Linked DNA regions of Homo sapiens: regions 2, 3 and 4 are each reported to be linked to region 1. The links are microRNA targets in miRTarBase. Many come from high-throughput screens and were not tested one by one. Region 1 holds a microRNA gene; each other region holds the end of a gene's coding sequence.
What was found. The annotated mature microRNA hsa-miR-8485 reads CACACACACACACACACGUAU and lies in region 1 at 2,677-2,697, opposite strand. An mRNA with a match to its seed (bases 2 to 7 or 8) in the 3' UTR can be bound and repressed. Matches are read on the target gene's strand: a 7mer-m8 pairs with bases 2 to 8, a 7mer-A1 pairs with bases 2 to 7 and ends in A, and an 8mer does both.

Region 2: miRTarBase lists EIF5 as a target of hsa-miR-8485. Seed matches in the 3' UTR shown: 8mer at 3,744-3,751 and 7mer-m8 at 1,232-1,238.
Region 3: the mRNA of CD19 is a reported target of hsa-miR-8485. Seed matches in the 3' UTR shown: 8mer at 4,048-4,055, 7mer-m8 at 4,039-4,045, 7mer-m8 at 4,037-4,043, 7mer-m8 at 4,035-4,041, 7mer-m8 at 4,033-4,039, 7mer-m8 at 4,031-4,037 and 4 more.
Region 4: miRTarBase lists ZBTB7C as a target of hsa-miR-8485. The part of its 3' UTR that is shown has no 7-base or 8-base seed match.

The regions. Positions count from the first base shown.
Region 1 is chr2:50,693,496-50,698,569 of GRCh38, forward strand. It overlaps MIR8485 (microRNA 8485), which reads right to left and starts at 2,767; the gene lies at 2,677-2,767. All of the region lies in intron 5 of NRXN1 (neurexin 1), which reads right to left.
Region 2 is chr14:103,340,486-103,345,559 of GRCh38, reverse strand. It overlaps EIF5 (eukaryotic translation initiation factor 5), which reads right to left. Exons shown (of 12, transcript NM_001969.5): 11 at 4,999-5,074; 12 at 535-4,597. The coding sequence ends at 4,508. Among named protein-coding and RNA genes, the nearest start is that of SNORA28, 5.2 kb to the right of the region's middle.
Region 3 is chr16:28,938,226-28,943,299 of GRCh38, reverse strand. It overlaps CD19 (CD19 molecule), which reads right to left. Exons shown (of 15, transcript NM_001770.6): 13 at 4,532-4,624; 14 at 4,322-4,428; 15 at 3,958-4,159. The coding sequence ends at 4,337. Among named protein-coding and RNA genes, the nearest start is that of CD19, 8.8 kb to the right of the region's middle.
Region 4 is chr18:48,025,007-48,030,080 of GRCh38, forward strand. It overlaps ZBTB7C (zinc finger and BTB domain containing 7C), which reads right to left. Exons shown (of 5, transcript NM_001318841.2): 5 at 1,666-4,905. The coding sequence ends at 4,254. Among named protein-coding and RNA genes, the nearest start is that of SMAD2, 97 kb to the left of the region's middle.

The DNA of each region.
Region 1 (5,074 bases):
TGCGTGCAAAGGTCAAATAAACTGGCAAGGAACAAAATGTGAGACCACAAATGCAAAAATGGCACAACTGCACTACTGAAATAAATACGTTGAATCAATGAACTCTGATATTTCTGCATTAAAATGCAGCTTGCAACCACTAACTGCAAAGGAAAATATGAAGGGAAAATAAAGAGATGGTAACTAGGACCTAATATCTATATTACTAACTCAACTTCAGAAAGTTGGTATATTTTCAAAATTGCAGATATGTCTGCAACCTAAAGTATACTTCATAGCATTTAATTAATTAATTAATTTTGAAGTTTATTTTAGAGGCAGAATCTCACTCTGTTGTCCAGGCTGAAGTGCAGTGGTGCAACCGTAGCTTATTGCAGCCTGAAACTCCTGGCATCATGTCCCCCTTTTACCTCAGCCTCCTGAGTATCTGGAACTATAGGTATCCACTACCATGGTCGGCTAATTGTTTTTATTTTTTGTAGAAATAGGGTCTTCCTATGCTGTCCAGGATGGTCTCAAACTCCCGGCCTCAAGGGATTCTCTTGCCTTGGCCTGCCAAAGCACTGGGATTATAAGTGTGAGCTACCACGTCCAGCCCATAGCATTTTATTTTGAGGTTTAGGGACTAACGTGTGTATGATTTAGCAAGTGATGTTTAATGGCATTTTAAAATAATGGGTACCAAATAGAAACGTATGAATTGTTACTTGAATATAATTAAACTTTGTAAATTAATGGATTAGACTAGAAAGAAAAGATTCCAGAAATTTGAGGGGAAAAGGTAGGTTCTAGCACTGTCTCTTACATTTACATATTCTGTCTGTTTGGGCATGTTATTTTATCTTTTTGCATCGGTTTCCCTCTTAATGTATGGGTGAATATATAATAGTTGGAATTAAACCATAAATCAGTCAACTTCTAAGCTGTATACTATAAAAAACATTTGATGTAAATAATAAAACTCCTTGGAATCTGTCCCTCTTTGTGTCTCCATAACCTTCTATATTTGTTAGTTGAAATAATTATTTCTAAGTCTGAGGATTGTCCATTCAAGGTTGAACACTCAAGAAAACTGATTTATCTCTGTTCATCTCTACAAAGTCAGAATCGAAGAAGCATCATATCCTTTGGTTAAATTCAAGGTAGGGAAAAGAAAATCAAACCAATTCTACCAAAGAACAAATCAATTGATTTGATTATGAGTAGGTGGAGGTTACATTCTTTATCTTACTGAATTTGAGGTAAAATCGGTTAATCCTTTTATCCCCAATATTCATATTTAATCCAGAAAATGCTCTCTGGAACAAAAGTAATCATTACAAAATAAAGGCTTTATTCTACATTTTAGCAATAGTCTTTCCTTGGCTTATAAAAAATTAATTGCGGGGTATTCTCTTGATTGGGTACTTTAGATCCTGGTGACTGTTCTAACTGATGGGGCTGAAAGACAGTTCCCTTATCTCATAGCCAAATCACCTCCATGCAAATTGATCTGGGAGTGCCTTTAGAATAAACACAGCTGGATTCTCTGCAGCCATTTATGGGTCCAGTTTCCTAGGCTTAATTTTGATTTATAACTACTGAAATTAAATTAGCCATCTTCACTGCTTAAGGGTGGCTTTGATTTCACCAGTGCAGTAGGGAGACTATTTACCAACATATTTTATCAGTAACATTTCAACCTGGGTAAGGGGGTGGCGGTGGGGGGAAGGCATCTTATCTTTGGTATTTGTACTTGAGATTCCTTCAGAATATTTTAATTGTATTATTTACCGACAAATGTGAGGATTAGATTGTCAAATCAGACTCACATGAATTAAAGATCTTGCCCAGCATCAAGCTTTGCTAAATAATTTCAAGGATATAAGCTATCAAGTTCAGATAAGGTGCATCATATAACATAAAGTGGTGTACCTTATGTCATATGCTCCAGGTAGCCCTGCCTCATAGATCCTGGGTTCTATTAACTATGGGTAATCCCTTAGCCAGAGACATCTTGCTAGGGACAGAGATATAGTCTCTTATTCATAGTAAGTAACATTAGTCTATTTCCATTTGACAAAGAGATTAGACTAAGTCTTTGCTTTCCTCTAGGAGCACAAATTATTGTACAAAACGAGAAACAAAATTTGAGAGATTAAAATATGTGAAATATGTTAATAGTTCTAAGAAGGCTTTTATCTAGAACACGGTAATAAATGTCGACGTGCTATAGTAGGAAGAGTTGAAGATAAATGGTTAGATATCGCTTTTTATCCATATGACTTTGTGCATTAGTTTTTTGAGCCTCAGTTTTACTAATATTCCAAAGGATTAGGGAAATAAGCCTAACCAGAGTGACTCTGATTTTTTTTTTTTTTTTTTTGAGATGGAGCTTCGCTCTTTCACTCAGGCTGGAGTGCAGTGGCACAATCTTGGCTCACTGCAACCTCTGCCCTCCAGCTTCAAGCGATTCTTCTGTCTCAGCCTCCCAAGCAGCTGGGATTACAGGCGCCCACCACCATGCTTGGCTAATTTTTGTATTTTTAGCAGAGATGGGGTTTCACCATGTTGGGCAGGCTGGTCTTGAACTCCTGACCTCAGGTGATCCATCCGCCTCAGCCTCCGAAAGTGCTAGGATTACAGGCAAGAGCCACCACACCCAGTCGACTATGGAAATTTTAAAAGACAGTACATATACGTGTGTGTGTGTGTGTGTGTGTGTGTGTGTGTGTGTGTATGTATACACATATGCTATATACACACACACACACACGTATATCACAGAACTGAAGACCATAAAATGTTCTATACATATGAAAAAATGAGAATTTGAAATGTACATAATTCTTCACACAGATAGCTGACAGTGTTATAAATCTCCTTTCTTATAAATAAGAAAAACAGTCTCAGAAGTAAGTAATATTCTGATGGAGAGTTAGAAAAGAAAACCTGTCTTACAACTCTTTAAACATGCTTCTCCTCTAAGCTAAATCATAGTTTGCTAAAGAAGGTCGTGATAAGGTAGAAGAAAGACAAGAAAAGCCAAGGCAATGGGGTGAAGCAGGCGGAGAAAACTGTTTATGCCTCTTCTTCCAATGTCTATTTATTTTCTTTGTGGTTCTGAGCAACTATTTCTTCTTTTATCTTGCAACTGTCAAAGCAGCTCTCTGTAGAGAAACCAGCAAGCACACCCATTAAAACCAAAGCATGAATTTTCGGGTGAGGATCAGTGAGGCTCTCTTAAGAATACCTGAATTTTCACAGAGATAAACATATTTATTTGATTTAAATGGTAGAAAGTGTTAATTACTAAGTTTCATATACTACCAGGAGTCATAGAGAAGTCATTTTGGAGACCAAGAGTATATTCCTAGACCATGTAATCACATCATTTGAGTAGCTGCTTACTGAGTTTATTCACAATGAAAGCCTGATACATAAATTCTTTAAACAGAAACCAGTGGCATTGTTAATTTCCACTTTTGTTTCCAAATTGTTGCTTTTGTCTCATTGAGAGCATATTACTTACTTCAAGCACCTTAACAAACAAAGCTGGGTCATACACAAACGTCCTACTGTACCAGCAATAAGACAATATGAATACCCTGCAACCTCTCAACAACCAGAAGACAAAGATGTATTTGGAAGGGGCAGATGGGAAGTGAAAAAGAGAAATAAAATATACTTTACAGGGAATATTTTGCACACGTAATTCTGAGTGTTATATTTTTAGCTTGTATAAATAAACTTCATTAGTCTTCATTTTGAATATACAGGAAAAGTTTTTTTAGAAAAGACTCATTGTCACAAGCTGATAAGGTAAGTTAGGACAGTATATGATTAATATGCTACAATGATGTCTAAGAGAGAGGATGCTCATTAAATTTGTGTGTGACAAAAGTTGGAAAGAGTGTTAAGACCTTGAAATACTGGAGCATCTTTCAAAGTGAAACTTGACAAGTTAGAGAAATGGTCAGATAGAGAAATGGATTTTAATCAGACTGAAAGGAAAATTAATGTATTGGTTTTGTCAGTTGTACCTTCATCTTGAACGTAATGACTGCCTGTTACTTCCTCTGTGGTTTCATCCGAACCTAACGCGACACTCCCCTGAAAGGTCTCCTCTCTCCCTTCCTTGCTCTTCTGTAGCCCATGCTTCACTTCTCAACTATGGTGATGTTTTGAAGATGTGAATTAGATTACATCATTCTTTTCTTCAAATCCTCAAATAATATTTAGAATATAATTCAAATCCTGGGTTGCCATGGTCTACAAGGCCTCAAATAAAATAGGTTCTGCCCACATCTTTGTTTCATTTTCTTTCTTTTCTCTGCCTCCAGGTTGGCACTTTTGTTCCTTTAACTCTTCAATTTACCTTGGTGCTTTGTACCAGCTGTTCCCCCAAAGTAGACAGCTCTCCATAGCTCTTCACACGGCTGCACTTCCTGCTACTCTCACTTAAAGTCACTGCCTTGAGCCAATTTCGTTAATCTGGCTCTAAATAACAACACAACCCCATCTACACTACAGTTCATCCTAATACCAGTCTAATTTTCTTCATAACACCTATCATTATCTGAAATCATCTTAGTTGTTTCACTTTAGAATCCTCCTTCTCTCATGAGAAAGTAAACATTGTGCGGGCAGGGTCATGGTCTTGTTTGTCCTGTACTTCCCACCCGTACAGCAGTGCTGGCACTTAGTAGGTGCTCAGTAGATATTCGTTGACAGTATAAGACAGAAGTCCTCAAATGTTGTCCAAGGACATTTGGTAGTCCCTGAGACTTTCGGGAGGGCCAAGGGCCAAAATCTTTTTCATCATCTCACAAATATACAACGGTGCTGTCTAGAGGCCAAAGGATATATGCTATCACAAAAGATTGCCTGCAGAAGTAGTTGTGAGAATCTAGCTCTCTTAAGCCAAACATCAAAGAGATTGTCAATAATGTAAAATAAGTCACTCTTCTCACAAAATTATCTTAGTGTTGGAATATAATTATTTTTCATAAAAGTACACAATTTATTTTAACATGCAACATGCAATGTGGTGGCTATTTTAAAATGAATTAATAAATATATAAATGTTTTCTCA
Region 2 (5,074 bases), not on the chromosome of region 1:
CTCACTGCAACATCCACCTCCCAGGTTCAAGCGATTCTCCTGCCTCAGCCGAGTAGCTGGGATTACAGGCATGCACCACCCCACCTGGCTAAGTTTTTGTATTTTTAGTAGAGATGAGGTTTCGCCACATTGGTCAGGCTGGTCTCAAACTCCCAACCTCAGGTGATCCACCCTCCTCGGCCTCCCAAAGTGCTGTTATTACAGGCGTGAGCCACCACGCGTGGCCGAGAATGGTTTTTAAAGGATAAATGAAGATTACATAACTGTTTTGAGATTACCACCTGTGGCTACAAAGATCCATAACAAGGGCGATGCAAGTCCACAGCTGGACAGGCTGTTGCTGGGTAGATGTCCTTGAAGTATTTTTTGCATAAGGCTGTGATGCTTTTTGTGCAAGGCTGTGGTTTTTGCAATCTTTTGTGATAATTTCGTTATTGGGCATACCAGCATGAGACCCTTCACCATCGCAAGACTGCAAACCCTACTCTATTTGTTCGGGTTGTTTTTTTGTTTCTTGAACACAAGTGACTCCGCTTTGATTGACAACTTTCACACTTTATTAAAATCTACTTTTTTCTGAGATTCAAAGAGCTACATTTTTGGTTAGTGTATGTCTACTATACCTTTTTTCATCCTTTCAACATCTTTTGTCACATTTTAGGTGATGCTCTTGTAAACAGTGTATTGCTAGACCTAAAAATCCAAGCTTACAACTTGTCCTTTACCTGATACATTTATTCCATTTACTTTCATTTGGATTTTTAAAAATGTTAACTTAATACGTCTCTTTCAGATGTCCCTGCTTTTTAGTTAATTGTGTTTTCTACTCTCCTAAAGACTTGATTTTTATTTTTTAGTTAACTGACCGTTTTTAAAGAGGTTTTAGGCTCATAGCAAAATTGGGTGGAATTTCCCCTACTGCCCCAGCCAGGCATTGCTTCTGACTGCAGCATTAGGCTTCCAGTGGGATTGAGTGCTGCACATAAGGGTCTCCACCCCCAGCAGATATGGAAAGGCAATCCCCTAGTTTTACAGTAAGGCCTGGGACAGAATCCAAATTTGATCCCAACACCCAAGTGAATCCTCCTCCTCTTAAAAAGAAATAATTGACTGCATAACCGAACTGCAGGGTCAACTCAGATCCTACCATTCACCTGGAGGTCCTGACATTGCACCTCCCAGTCTAGGTCCCAAGAAAAGAACTCTGTAGCTTCTATTCTCATATCCCAGCACACACAAGTCCTTAAAATTTCTGGCCATAAAAACCACAGAAATTTGATTCCCAGAAAAAAACTGTTTGGCTAGACCAGACAGGTGGACATAAACACCCTGAGCTCCCAACCTATTAACAAAGGCTCACAGGGTCACTCTGGTGCACAAACCTACAATGAGACTACCTGCAAGTCATTTGCTGTCACCCCACTTATGGAATGTCACTATGAATCAAGATCTGTACTGGGGACAGAGATGACCAAAGTGACTCCCTGTCCCCTTGGGGTCACACAGCACATGCAACGAAAGTGCAACACTGTTTCTGGTACTAAGACTGCTCTGGCTTTGTAGTAGTCAGGGAGGCTGAAATTTGAACCATCAAAAAGATGATGCAGGAACAAGGTCAACTTTGCATTTGCTGGTTACTCCGGAATACTGGTAGGTCAAGCTGTAGCAATTAAGAAAATAGCTGGTTAGATAAGGATTGTCTGCAGACTTGTCAAATAAATTTAAAATACATGAAGGGTTATTTTGTTAGATAAGTGACCTTGGTACAACAGTACCTATGCCTCAGGACCACGATGAGGACTGACTGAGCTAACAAAATGCAAAAGGTTCAAACTCACTTATCTGCTTTTTGCAGATGGCCAGCTTTCACTTCTGCCATCTCCAGGCCAAAGGCATAAAGTCAGTGCTTGGTACACTGGAACAAACAGCTTGGGGCTCAATTTTGATACCCCTCCCTTCTCAAGCGGGAAGCGGTGGATTAGAGACCTCCTTGCCCATCTCTAAACTTTAGGACCCACACTAAAAATTTTTAAGTCAATTTCAGAATGCACTTGTTTAGAAAGCAAACCTCCCCATTCCCTCATTCTTAACTAGAGATATATACAATTATTCACAGTTACATAGCTGTATGTATGTTCCCTATTAAGCACCTGCCAAGATTTCAAGTAATAAAACTGAGGCAGATGCTCAGTTCACAGACAAGACTAGCAAATAAAGCCAGTGACCCAATGAAATGAACAACTTTTGTGAGTGGGGCTGGCAAGTGTAACTGCAGGATACATCCAACACAAATCCAAAGCAACGGCTACAAAACAGGGCAGATTCCAATGCTTTGATCTCATTATAAAATGAAAACTTGTTAACTTTAATATTAAAGCAAAGACAAAATACAATTTTATCATTATTTTAATCAAGTAACTTAGCTGTTTAAACAAATCCTTAAGACAGTTCAATAGAGCAAAGTGAAGAATTACTCTATTAGGATAACCTGTGAACAAAGTTCAGATTATGTGAATTTGTATTCCATTCGAAGTTTGGCACCAGACTGAACACTGGTTTAAGCCAAATTTTTTAGTGTTCTAGAAGCCCTGAACATGTTTTCCCTCAGATTAAAAGTAGAACCTTTATAATAGAACCTCATTAGCTTGACACTGAGTATGCTGAGTGCAACTTAGCTTAGGTCACCAGTATCTCCTACAGAATTCCAGTTAATGAAAGCAGATCAGCCTTGCGGCAAAGAATTTGAAACCTAGGCAACATACAAGTTTGAAGAAAAAAAAATCCTCTTTGGTGTGACAAAGCACATTCCCTCCAGGTATATGGCTCCTGCTCCACTTGCACCCGAATCTTGATCAAAGGCAGCTGGAGACCAATTCTTGTCTCTCCAATAAGATTGCTAGGTTTCAATTCCTTAAAATATCAAGCCAACCAAGTTTTATTACATCAAATGTTTCTATCATTTCAATGTGAAAATTTTTTTACGCCTATTTGTTATTAAGGTCTCATTATCTGTGAAATAATCACAAAAAAACAGAGGTGAATGGTATAAGCCACTGCTCCAAAATTAACCCTATCGATTCTCGATTCCCACTGTGCACTTTGTGAAAAGGGTAACTGCCAAGAGGTTTAACCTTGAAGATGATTACTCAAACAGTCAGAACCCATAATATGAGTTTAGATCAGGCAAGGAGTTCATGAGGAAGTTATCAACTCTTGTGTGTCCAAATCTAAAGCCCTGCATGGGCTCTGTCAGGTCCTTGTCACCTGCACTCAGGTGGCCATCAGACTTCTTGGGTGCCTGGCTATATTCAATGTGAAGTAAAAAATATCCCAAGTCTTACACCAAAATAGAGGCTCTGACTTAGAAGTATGCTTTTAGCTTTCTTTTTAAATAAGACATTCTGGAAGAAAAAAAAAAGAAAAAGGAAAGAAAATCAAGTTTGAAACACAGTTAACACTTATTTTGGCAAGAAAGCAACCAAAATCTAAAAAGCATAAACTATGTGTCCAAATGTAAAAGGCATTACAGAACAAACTGCAAGAGGGGAAAATTAAAGCCACACTGAACGAAAAAATACAGTATGTCTAACATTTTGGAATTGTAATTTAAACCCTAAGGGCAAAAGCTGAAAAATCATGCTTAGGTTGCTAGTTAAGTGCACCCTTCCTTGTTTCTCCCAAATAAAATCAGTTTATTAATTGCACCCCAAAGCAAGTTCTCTCAGTACAAAGTAACTACTACGTACACACAAAATGCTTGTTAATGTAATAATTTCCCTGGCTCATCCAACGTGCAATGCACACGACTTCAAAGACAATTTGGGGCAAGTGTACATGAAATGAGAAAACAGCTCTCCAAGTTTCAAATCCTGCTCTTACATTATTTATAGGACACTGAGGTCATATTTACTTCTTGGTTAAGATGTTACACTGTCATTTCATTATCAGTCTACCTCACAATGTACATTACCAGATGCCAATTTGAGGAACTACAGAGATAAAACTTTAGTACTTTCTTAATGGGCTGAATAAATTAATTACAATTAAGTTTGCTTTACATCCTGTTGAGGACCTCTTTGCAGCCCCAGGACCTAACAATATCTGGCAGGCTCCAAGAATGCTCATCAGGTGAAATGATGGCAGAACATTTAAAGTAAGGAGCCAGTTACTTCAGCTTAAGTCATTCAGAGCCAAACATCTGAAGAACGACCAAAATCAAACCTTTATTTTTATAACTGTATAAATGTGATCCAAATGTGTCCACCACTAGTTTTTCAAAAAGAAACATGCTATAAATAAGCAAACTACATCTGCTCACTGATGTGTATGGACTCCCTAGATGTCTCATTGGGCTTAATAACAGACCACTCACAGTAATAGATTTTTAGTGTAAAGTGTAGCATGATGTTAAGCCATTTTAGCTTTTGCACATACATGTTGCACTTCTGGCTGATAATGGAGGAAAATTTGCAGCATTATACTGTTAAGCTAGGTTGCATCCATCCCTTTAAATGGCATCAATATCGATGTCGTCATCCTTGTTGTCTGACTTTACAGTCTCAACTTTCGGTACACTGGCAGCCTTCGAATACACCACCTGTTAAGAGGAATGATTTTATTCAACATAAGCTGATAAATCTGTTTATAAAACAAATCAATGTAAATTGTGGTCACAGAGGAGGAAACTGCCTAGATGCAGCTATTTCTTCTTCACGGAACAGCTCTGTTATGCAAACACTGCAAGTTCTCTTACACAGGCTCCAGTCTAAGAGCATTTTTAAAGTTTTTTTATAGACTATAATGTGTAGGAGTAGGAACACAGTTTCCATCACCCTTTCTATTATTTTCCAAATTATTGAGAGGCTGTATTTTACTGCATCTTAAATTCTAAACCTGAAATTACCCCAAACTGCCATTATATCACTCCTCACAAACCTTTTTAAATCTCAAACACCCATGCCAGCACTGTATCCAATACCCTCCTCCCCCAATGTTTACCTCAATGTTCTCATCTTCATCTTCTTCTTCGCCACCAGAAGATTCTTCCTCTGCCTCCTTCAACCATTTTATAAAT
Region 3 (5,074 bases), not on the chromosome of region 1:
TAGGTAGCTAAGCTCAAAGGGAAGACAGAATCTTCTTGGTTCCAGAATAAGGAGGAAAATCAAAGCCACAGTGGTGGGGGCAGTGGGGACAGTGAAGTCAAGCAGCCTGTGGGAATGCAGGAATCCCCTACGATTGGCATTTTAACACCCACATGGGGGCCGGGCAAGGTGGCTCACGCCTGTAATCCCAGCACTTTGGGAGGCCGAGGCGGGTGGATCAGGAGGTCAGGAGTTCAAGACCAGCCTGGCCAACATAGAGAAACTCCCCCCGACCCGCCACCGTCTCTACTAAAAATATAAAAAATTAGCCGGGCATGGTGGCAGGCACCTGTAATCCAAGCTACTCAGGAGGCTGAGGCAGGAGAATCGCTTAAAGCCAAGAGGCAGAAGTTGCAGTGAGCCAAGATCACACCATTACACTCCAGCCTGGGCTTTAATCCCAGCACTTTGGGCTTTGGGAGGCTGAGGTGGGTGGATCACTTAAGGCCAAGAGTTCGAGACCAGCCTGACCAACATGGAGAAACCCCGTCTCTACTAAAAATACAAAAATTAGCCGGTATAGTGGCACGTGCCTACAGTCCAAGCTACTCAGGAGGCTGAGGCAGGAGAATCGCTTGAACCCAGGAGGCGGAGATTGCAGTGAGCTGAGATCGCACCTCTGCACTCCAGCCTGGGCAACAGAGCAAGACGTCATCTCAAAAAAAAAAAAAAAAATCCATCCCCAGGCCCTGGCTCACAATGTAGAAGCGAGCCGCCTGAGAATGAATGGAAAAAGCCATCCAGGCACTCAGAACCCCAAAGCTAACCAAAGTATAGGCTTGGAGTTAGCCCAAACCTCTGGTGCAGAAACCTGTTCTGAGGAACTCATAAATAAAATGGTCAGAATCTTGTGCAGCCTGTAAGACTGTGGCAGGAGCCAAAGCAAGCCGGCCCCAGAGGTTGTCAGTGGGGCCCCAGGAACCCATGAGGCTGTCACAGGCAGGAGAAACATAAAGAAGTCAAAGACACCTTCCGTGAAATCAAAGAAATCTTCCATGGGGACTTCCATTCTCATGGCTCATGGGGTCACCATGGAAGGTTTTTGTTGTTGTTTTGAGACAGAGTCTCGCTCTGCTGCCCAGGCTGGAGTGCAGTGGTGCCATCTCGGCTCACTGCAACCTCCGCCTCCCGGATTTAAGCAATTCTCCTGCCTCAGCCTCCCGAGTAGCTGTAATTACAGGCGCCTGCCACCATGCCCGGCTAATTTTTGTATTTTTAGTAGAAACGGGTTTCGCCATGTTGGCCAGGCTGGTCTCGAACTCCTGACCTCAGTTGATCCCACCTGCCTTGGCCTCCAAAAGGGCTGGGATTACAGACATAAGCCACTGTGCCCTGCCTCCATGGAAGGTTTCTTTGACTTCTTTTACATGCCATGTAAAAGTAATAGTAACTACAGCATGCCTCCGCCTTAATGGGATTTTATAGCTGAGGCAGTGGAGGGTCAGGTTAAGTTGCCTAAAGTCAGTTAGCAATTGAAGTATTTAATTTATCTGTGCCCCAATCTCCTTAGCTGTAAAATAATAATAATTTTTAGTGTACTTTCCTCATAGGACAGTGGTAAAGATAAAATGAGTCGCCACCTGGAGAACGGTACGATGCCTGGCACATCGTAGTAATGTTAATACAGATGAAAGAAGTTTTAGGGGCTGGGTGCCTGTAATCCCAGCACCCTTGGGAGGGCAAGGCAGGCAGATTGCTTGAGGCCAGGAGTTGCAGTGAGCTATGATCAAGCCACTGCACTCCAGCCTGGGTGACAGAACAAGACTCTGTCAAAAAAAAAAAAAAAAAAAAAAAGGCCAGGCGCAGTGGCTCACGCCTGCAATCCCAGCACTTTGGGAGGCTGAAGTGGGTGGATCACCTGAGGTCAGGAGTTCGACATCGGCCTGGCCAACATAGTGAAACCCCGTCTCTACTAAATATACAGAAATTAGTCGAGTGTGGTGACACATGCCTATAATCCCAGCTACTCAGGAGGCAGAGGCAGGAGAATCGCTTGAACAGGGAAGAGAGAGGTTGCAGTGAGCCGAGACAGTGCCACTGCACTCCATCCTGGGTGACAGAGCGAGACTCCGTCTCAAAAAAAAAAAAAAAAAAAAAAAAAAAAAGATGAAGTAAGTTTTACATGCTCAGAGATAAAGAAGAAATTTCTACAACAAAAACAGGGTGGGAGGTCGAGGCAGGGAGCTGTTAACTGGGGGCCAGGAGATAGAGACCAGCCTGGCCAACATGGAGAAACTCCATCTCTACTAAAAATACAAAAATTAGCCAGGTGTGGTGGCACAGGCCTGTAATCCCAGCTACTTGGGAGGCTGAGGCAGGAGAATAGCTTGAACCCAGGAGGCAGAGGTTGCAGTGAGCCAAGATGGCACCACCCACTCCAGCTTGGGTGACAGAGTGAGACCCTGTCTCAAAAAAAAAAAAAAAAAAAAAAAAAAGAAAGAAAGAAAAGAAATGGTGAAAATAATATTAATAGTATACCTACCTCATAGGGTCGTAAAGATAAAATGAATGAATATACACAAACATACATAACATGTCCATAAAATATACATAAAATATTTGAATACAATCCTGCCACATAATAAGTGCTTACTATCTTTGTGAAGTTATTGTAACGATAAAATTTGCTCATTGATATTAGTGCTTAGAACATAGTAAGGTCGGGCACTGTGGCTCACGCCTGTAATCCCAGAACTTTGGGAGGCTGAGGCAGGTGGATCACCTGAGGTCAGGAGTTTGAGACCAGCCTGGCCAGCATGGGGAAACCCTGTCTCTACTAAAAATACAAAATTATCCGGGTGTGATAGTGGGCGCCTGTAATCTCAGCACTTTGGGAGGCCAAGGTTGGTAGGATCACTGGAGCCCAGGCATTCAAGACCAGCCTGGGCAGCATGAGGCATTCAAGACCTCATCTCTACAAAAAATAAAAAATGAGCTGTGGCCGGGTGCGGTGGCTCACACCTGTAATCCCAGCACTTTGGGAGGCCGAGGCGGGTGGATCATGAGGTCAGGCGTTCGAGACCAGCCTGGCCAACATAGTGAAACCCCGTCTCTACTAAAAATGCAAAAAATTAGCTGGGCATGGTGGCGGGCACCTGTAATCCCAGCTACTTGGGAGGTTGAGGTGGGAGAAATTCTTGAGCCTGGGAGGTCGAGGCTGCAGTGAGCCATGATTGCACCACTGCACTCCAGCCTGGGCAACAAAGCGAGAGCCTGTCTCAAAAACAAAAAAAAAAAGAAGAGTATAGTAGATGCTCAATAAATAAGTACTCAGTGACAATGAATAGCATCTTCTAACTAGACTGCTAATTCCTGGGCTGTTTCTCCACTGGGCACCCAGCATGTAACTGCTGAATTAATGATAATTGGGTAGCTGGATGGTGGGAGGGGGCTGATCGTGACGGATCTGTGGGCAGCGGGCAAAAGAGGGCAGTAGGTGAAGGCTAGGCCATGGAAGGGGAAAGGCCCTTTGTTTTATTTTTATTTTTATTTTTTGTTGAGACGAAGTCTCGCTCTGTCGCCCAGGCTGAAGTGTAATGGCACCATCTCCACTCACTGCAACCTCTGCCTCCCAGGTTCAAGTGATTCTCCAACCTCAGCCTCCCAAGTAGCTGGGACTACAGGCTCGCCACCACACCCAGCTAATTTTTGTATTTTTAGTAGAGACGGGGTTTCACCAGGTTGACCAGGCTGGTCTCGAACTCCTGACCTCAAATGATCCACCTGCTTGGCCTCCTAAAGTGCTGAGATTACAAGTGTGGGCCACCGCACCGGGAAAAGGCCCTTTGTATGCAGAAGGCAGCCCTCCCTCTTCCATGGGATTCAAGACGCCTTTCCTTCCCTTCCTTTCCTTCCCTTCCCTTTCCTTCCTTTCCTTTCCTTCCCTTCCTTCCCACACAATGGCACTACTTCATAGGATTGGAAGAGCTCATTGAGTTTATTTAAGGAATACAAAGGGGACTGGAAGTGTCACTGGCATGTATACACACACACACACACACACACACTTACACACATGCACACATCCTAAGCAACATTGCTCCAGAGGTTGGCATCATCTGCTCGAGGTCTTCAGATTTCAGAGTCAGGTGTGAATCTTGGGGACTTGAGGAGATCCAGGCTATGCAGAAGAAACGGTGATGGGGAGGGGTCCAGCAGTCCTCCCCCTGCCCACCAGGCCCTAGGAACCCTGTTCCCTCTCCCTCCCTGAAAGCCAGCAGCCACTGCCATCCGTGCCTATCTCCCTCCCTCCCCGCTTTCCCTAGGGGCAGTCCCAGCTCACCTGGCCACCTGAGGATCACCTGGTGCTCCAGGTGCCCATGCGGCCCCCTCCTCCCCAGGCTGGGTCTGGCCCATCGGGATTATCCATGTTCTCATAAGAGTCTGCATCTGGATAGGACCAGGGAGGAGGAGAACATGGGTGGCACTGGAAGTAGGCTGGAAGGCAAAGTCAGCCCAGGGGACAGCAGGGGACAGCGGCAGAAGCACCCACCTTCCTCATGATTGGGTCCAGGCTGGCCCCGAATGGAGCGGAGCTGGGGGGCTGCATACAGGATTCCTCTCATATCCTCATAGGACTGGGACCCTGCTTGGGCGGGGGATGGAGAATTGGAGGCTAGGGCATGGGAAGTACAGCCTACGGTAAGGAGGAAGACTGAGGGGCAGAGGAAGGTGAGGAGCATTACCCATGCTGTGCTGGGAAGGGGTGATTTGGTTAGCATTGAGTTTGGGGCCCCAGTTAGCTGTAGGGTCAGGGTTAGATATGGGTTAGATTATGGCTAAGGAAGGGGTCAAGAACAGAACTGGGCTGGGCGTGGTGGCTCATGCCTGTAATCCCAGCACTTTGGGAAGCCAAGGCGGGCAGATCACTAGAGGCCAGGAGTTGGAGACCAGTCTGGCCAACATGGCGAAACCCTGTCTCTACTGAAAATACAAAAATTAGCCAGGTGTGGTGGCAAACGTCTATAATCCCAGCTACTCAGGAGGCTGAGGCATGAGAATCGCTTGAACCTAGGAGGCAGAGGTGGCAACTGCA
Region 4 (5,074 bases), not on the chromosome of region 1:
CAGGTCTCCAACATTCTTGAGAGGCAGTGTTGAACTCTTGTGCTGACTGAGAGCTCACTCCTTCACGAGGGACCTCGTTCCTCTTTAGGGCAACTCCAGATGTTAGGAAGTTCTCTTCCTTTTTTTGGGCACCCAGTTGCCTCCTGCAATCTCTCTCCTATTGGCTTGGGTTGGCCAAATTTTTGGTGAAAGTTTCCCCTCCCCAACACACCTGTTGAAGTCCCAAGGCCTGTTCATGTATTCCTTAAGACTTCTTCTCCAGGTAAGCTGCACAGGTTTCTTTGGCCTGTCTTCGGAGGCCTCATCCTCCTTCCTTCACTCCCTCTTCCCTCCACTGGAGGCTCCTTTGCTGTCAGGACCCCACCTCCCTTAGCACCTTGGGGTCCCAGGGTGCAGGTCACACATGGCCGGGCTCCATGGAATTCCCACCTGGCCAGGGCTAGAAGGAGATTTTACTCACAGGAGATCAGGAGCACCCAGGGGTCAAGGCCCACTGGGCCCAGTTCCCTTCCCCTTCTCCATCTTCACCTATGTCACTCAGTGGACACTGACCCCCAGAATGAGGACCACATGATCCTAGAATGGCCGAGCTGAGCAGAATCTTGACGAGCAGCTGGCCTTGCATTTCTTGCACTGGGCTATGCTTACCCCTGAGCCCTCAGCCATGGGCTGGGGCCTCCCAAAGCTGTAGGGTGGCCAAGGAACAGTTCGACTTCACTAGAAGATTCTGGGGAAAAGGCAAGTCACTTAACTGGCAAGTCGATCAAAACGATGTTTTTATATTAAGACAAATGTTATGTAATAGAATGCAGAAGCATGAATTTCAAAGCCAAAACAGGAGACTTCAGAGTTTTACACTACAGATAGGTTACTTTGGGCTATTTCTTTAGTGTTCTGCCCCCAATTTGCCAATCAGCTGGCCCCCTCTGCTGAGGGGTGTTTAGATGGAGAACTTCGAGAAGCTCTGATTACTCCATTTCCTTTATTACTAGAGGTGAGGGAAGGGAAGACCAGAGTGGAGGGGTGATTAGACTGAAGACACACAGCTTGGAGGAGTCTAAATTGGAAACCCGGATCTGTTCTTTTCTCTGTACCAAGAAACGCTGCATAGACGTTGCCTACTACAGCAAGAAAGGAATCAAAAATAGAAAAGAGGCTCTGGGTTGACCCTTGGTTTTCCAGAAATGCAATTCGAAGAACAGTGTTACCAAGAGTCTGGGCTGTGGGTTGTAAGTAGAGCTGACTCCATTCAATGACAGAAGTATATTCCTTTACCTTAGGTTCTTTTAGGATCTAATGTTCTTTGGGAAAGAGGCTCAGGTGAAGAAAGGAGGAGGCCGATGCCAGCACCGGGAAGTGAGAGGAAGGAGACCCAGATAGCAGCAGGGCCAGCCGGAGCCCATTCCGGATGCCAGGCTGGGGAACTGGCAGGACTTCCCTTGCTCACACATCCTGGGGTGTAGCTGCACACGTTTGTGAACACACGCACACACACGCACACCTCGCACTCAGGCCCACAGGTGCTGCAAAGCTTAAGATCCAACCATGCCTTACAAAGCTGGAATGTAAGAGACTACTGAGAATTGAGTTCTGCCCTCCCTACCATGCAACACCCCCAGATAACTGAAACGGCAATTGGAAGGGGGAATCAATCTCACCAGGTCATTAAGCAAGCATAGCTCACTTTTACTCAAAACACTGTCCTTTAAAGTATAAAATAAGGGTCAAAGGTTTTTTTTTTTTTCTTTGTTAAGGTGTCTTTGACATTATTTTAAGTTTATGACACCCAACAATTAAAAACCTTAAGACTGGCTTGTTGCTGTCCTGTGAACTTTCAGAAGTCACATCTCACAGAAGTGCAACTCTCAATATAATTTAATCAAGTCAATTAATACTGTTTAATAAATAGGCCAGAAAATTAGCTGAGAGTTTTTCTCGGCGGGATGTGGCGTGCGACCGAAGTTATGGAAGATTGTCCCTTGAATCACTAAGGCAAACTTTGTTGAGTGTCATTTTACGTAGAGCAATCACATAAAAAAAGAGTTATAAATAGAAAAAATTCCAAAGTTCTCCCACAGACAGACAGGGAAATTGAAACATCAAAAAAAAAAAAAAATTGAAGCAAAACAAAAACACAACCACCCCTCCCCCCACAACCCATTTGCTTCAAGTTCTTGATCATACAGTACTCAACATCTTTGGATATTTTACAATGTACAATTCCAAACTGCAGCCAAGAAAAAACAGAAAGAACTAACCAGTCATCTGAAAAATTGAGTTTATAAGAAGTCATCACCTTTACAAAATAAAAACAAAAGCCCCAACACCACTGGATTCCAATTTATTCATGTTTCCTTTTTTTTTTTTTTTCCTCTCTTTTAAAGTCTGGTTCAGCCCCAATCACTTGGCTGATGGGGGGGAACACGGGGGCACGTTGGCTGGTGGACATGGGCATGCTTCAGAGAAAAGTGTCTGAAACGAAGACAGGAATCTGAGAGGCGGCTGCCCAGGCAGATGACTTCTGAGAACAGAGGGTGTGTGTAGCAATCCTGCTGGCTGGAGTGGCATCCGGTGGTGTGAAGAATCAGGGGGTCTCTTCTGGAGAGTTGTGAGAGGGACAGAGTCTGTGCTCTTCTCTGGCCTTTTTGTTTGTTGTGTTTTTGCTCAGGAAAAAGCCAAGGCAACAGGAAGAGCTGAAGTCTCTTTGTGCCCATAGCACAGGGATTGGGGACTCCAGCCCTGGGCTCTCCCTGGGGACGAACCCTCCTCCTCTCTGGGCTGCTCAGAAACCAAAGCAAACTTGGCAAGAAAAGAGAGGGGAGGGAAGGAGAGAGAAGGTCAGGAAGGCACGGGGCCAGCAGAGCCTTCCTTTTCAGGACCTGCTGCAAATTCAAGAACCAGGAGAACATGTGACAACTCTAACTCACAGAGCCCTTCAAACCTCAGAGGCCTCCACCTCCCTGCACTGAGCCCTTTTGTCAAAAATGGGGAGCCAAATACTCCCACTTCATCCCCAGAGGGAGGAGGAAGGGGTTGAGGGGGTTCTCACACAGCAAAGGGGACCATCACTAGCAATGCCAAGGCCCTGAGGAACCCTCAACTCAAAAAACAAACAGATAAACCCTAGAAACCGGTGTTTTGTCTGTTGTCAGGAATCAGGATGAGGGGAGACTGTTGCCAGGTGTTAAGAGGTGGCCCCCATCTCTTCGATGTTGGCCCTGAGAGCCCCAAGACACTGCACAGCCTTGGAGGGGGCACTGGAGATGGGGGTAAACATTAAATAGCGCCCCCAGGAGTCCAGACATGAACAGCGGCCTGCAGGGAAGGTAGGGTAGCATTCTGAGTTCGCAGAGCTACCTGTGGGCTTTGCTGAAGCTCGGAAGCTCCCCTGATGACCTGATCTCTGTCTAGTCTGGCCATATTTCTCACCTATGCTAATATGCTAATATAGAGCTGGATGTGATAAAACTAAGTCCAGAAAGATAAACTGTTTCCCCATGGACTTGGGGAGTACAAAGCTTCTACCATCTCTGTGATTCTCTGGGGGGATAGGTGTGTATGTGTTTAGAGGTGGAGGGCGGAAACCTCAGTTACCAGCCCCTTCCATAGCCAGGTGACACTGAGCTACAGAGGGCTGACCTGTCAAGGTCACAGGACAGGTCAGGGAAGAAATGGCCCGGGCCTTCCAGAGCCTGGTTCCTGACTGGTTCCAGGAGGCCTCCCTGCCAACAGAGCATTTCTTTCTATGTGGCAGGTGGGTAGTTCTCAAAAAGACCCCGGGGCCACTGGAGACTGGAAAATGAGCCCTCAGAGGAGTGTTGGCAGAGACTTTGCCATAGGGGGTGGGGCTTAACCAAGGTGCATGCCCAGCCCCTACCTCCTCCTGCTGTGGCTGGCTGGGCACCAGGCCAACCACCCCCTGACCCCTCATGACTCACCCAGCTCCTAAGTGCCCCTGGGCACCCAGTTCTTTGTGGCATGGGCCGGTGCAAGTTTCTATATGAGAGCCAGAGAGACAGGGAGGGAGGCCCGGGCTCCTGGCCTTTTGGGAAAAGATGCCCGTCTCAGACCAGCAAAAGGAGGCAGCTGCTTTAGGAGCCCGGGAAAATGCCATCACTGATAGTATTATTATTATTTTCCCATTTTCCCTTTGTGTTTTTAAAATGAAAAGTTCAGATCCATGGGGTAGGGTAGAGTGGGCCTGGAGGGAGAAGGACTGGAGGGCTGGTGGGCTGGAGCCGACAGGGACCAGCCTAGTTGTTGGCTTCGGACATGGAGGCCACGTGGTTGAGGCCGGCGAGCCCAGGGAGGCCGGCCAGGCCGGCGGCCCAAGGGTCGGGCAGCGGGAAGTAGGGCCGCGCCGCCGCCACGTTCTCGGCCAGCGCGAAGGCCAGGAGGCCCCCCGCGTTCCTCTCAGCCTCCAGCTGCGCGCGCCCGAACAGCTTCATCTGTGTCTCCTCGAACTGCCGCTCCAGCTCTTGCAGGCTCAGGGCGCCCTTGGGCGCTGCCAGGAAGTGCTTGGCGGGGCTGGGGCCCGGGAGGCACACAGCTGCGCCGCCCAGGTGGCCGCCCACCTCGCCCAGCGCAGGGGGCATCACGAAGGCCGCCTTGTCGGGGGCCGGGCCGCCGGGCCCGAAGAGCAGGCTGGCGGCCCTCCACGCAGCAGGCTTGCGGCCGCGTCGGGGCCGTGCCATGCGGCAGCTCTGGCGCTTGATGTGGCGGTGCAGGTGGTCAGAGCGCGTGAAGCTCTTGTAGCAGAACTCGCACTGGTAGGGCCGCACGCCCGTGTGGATGCGCATGTGGTTCTTGAGGTCGTAGTTGTGCACGAACTTGGCGTTGCAGTGGATGCACAGGTAGGGCCGCTCCCCTGTGTGCTTCCGCATGTGGATTTTCAGCTTGTCCTGCCTGCAATGCAGAGACTGGGGGTCAGTCCCGCAGGGAACACCAGGAGCCATTCCTAACCTTTTGCTCCCCCTTTCTCCAGAACCAGCCGAGGCTCCCTACTGCCATGGAGTCAAACCCCAGAAATAGGTCTCATGCTAGATCTACCCTCAACTGCTGCCCCACCTTAGAC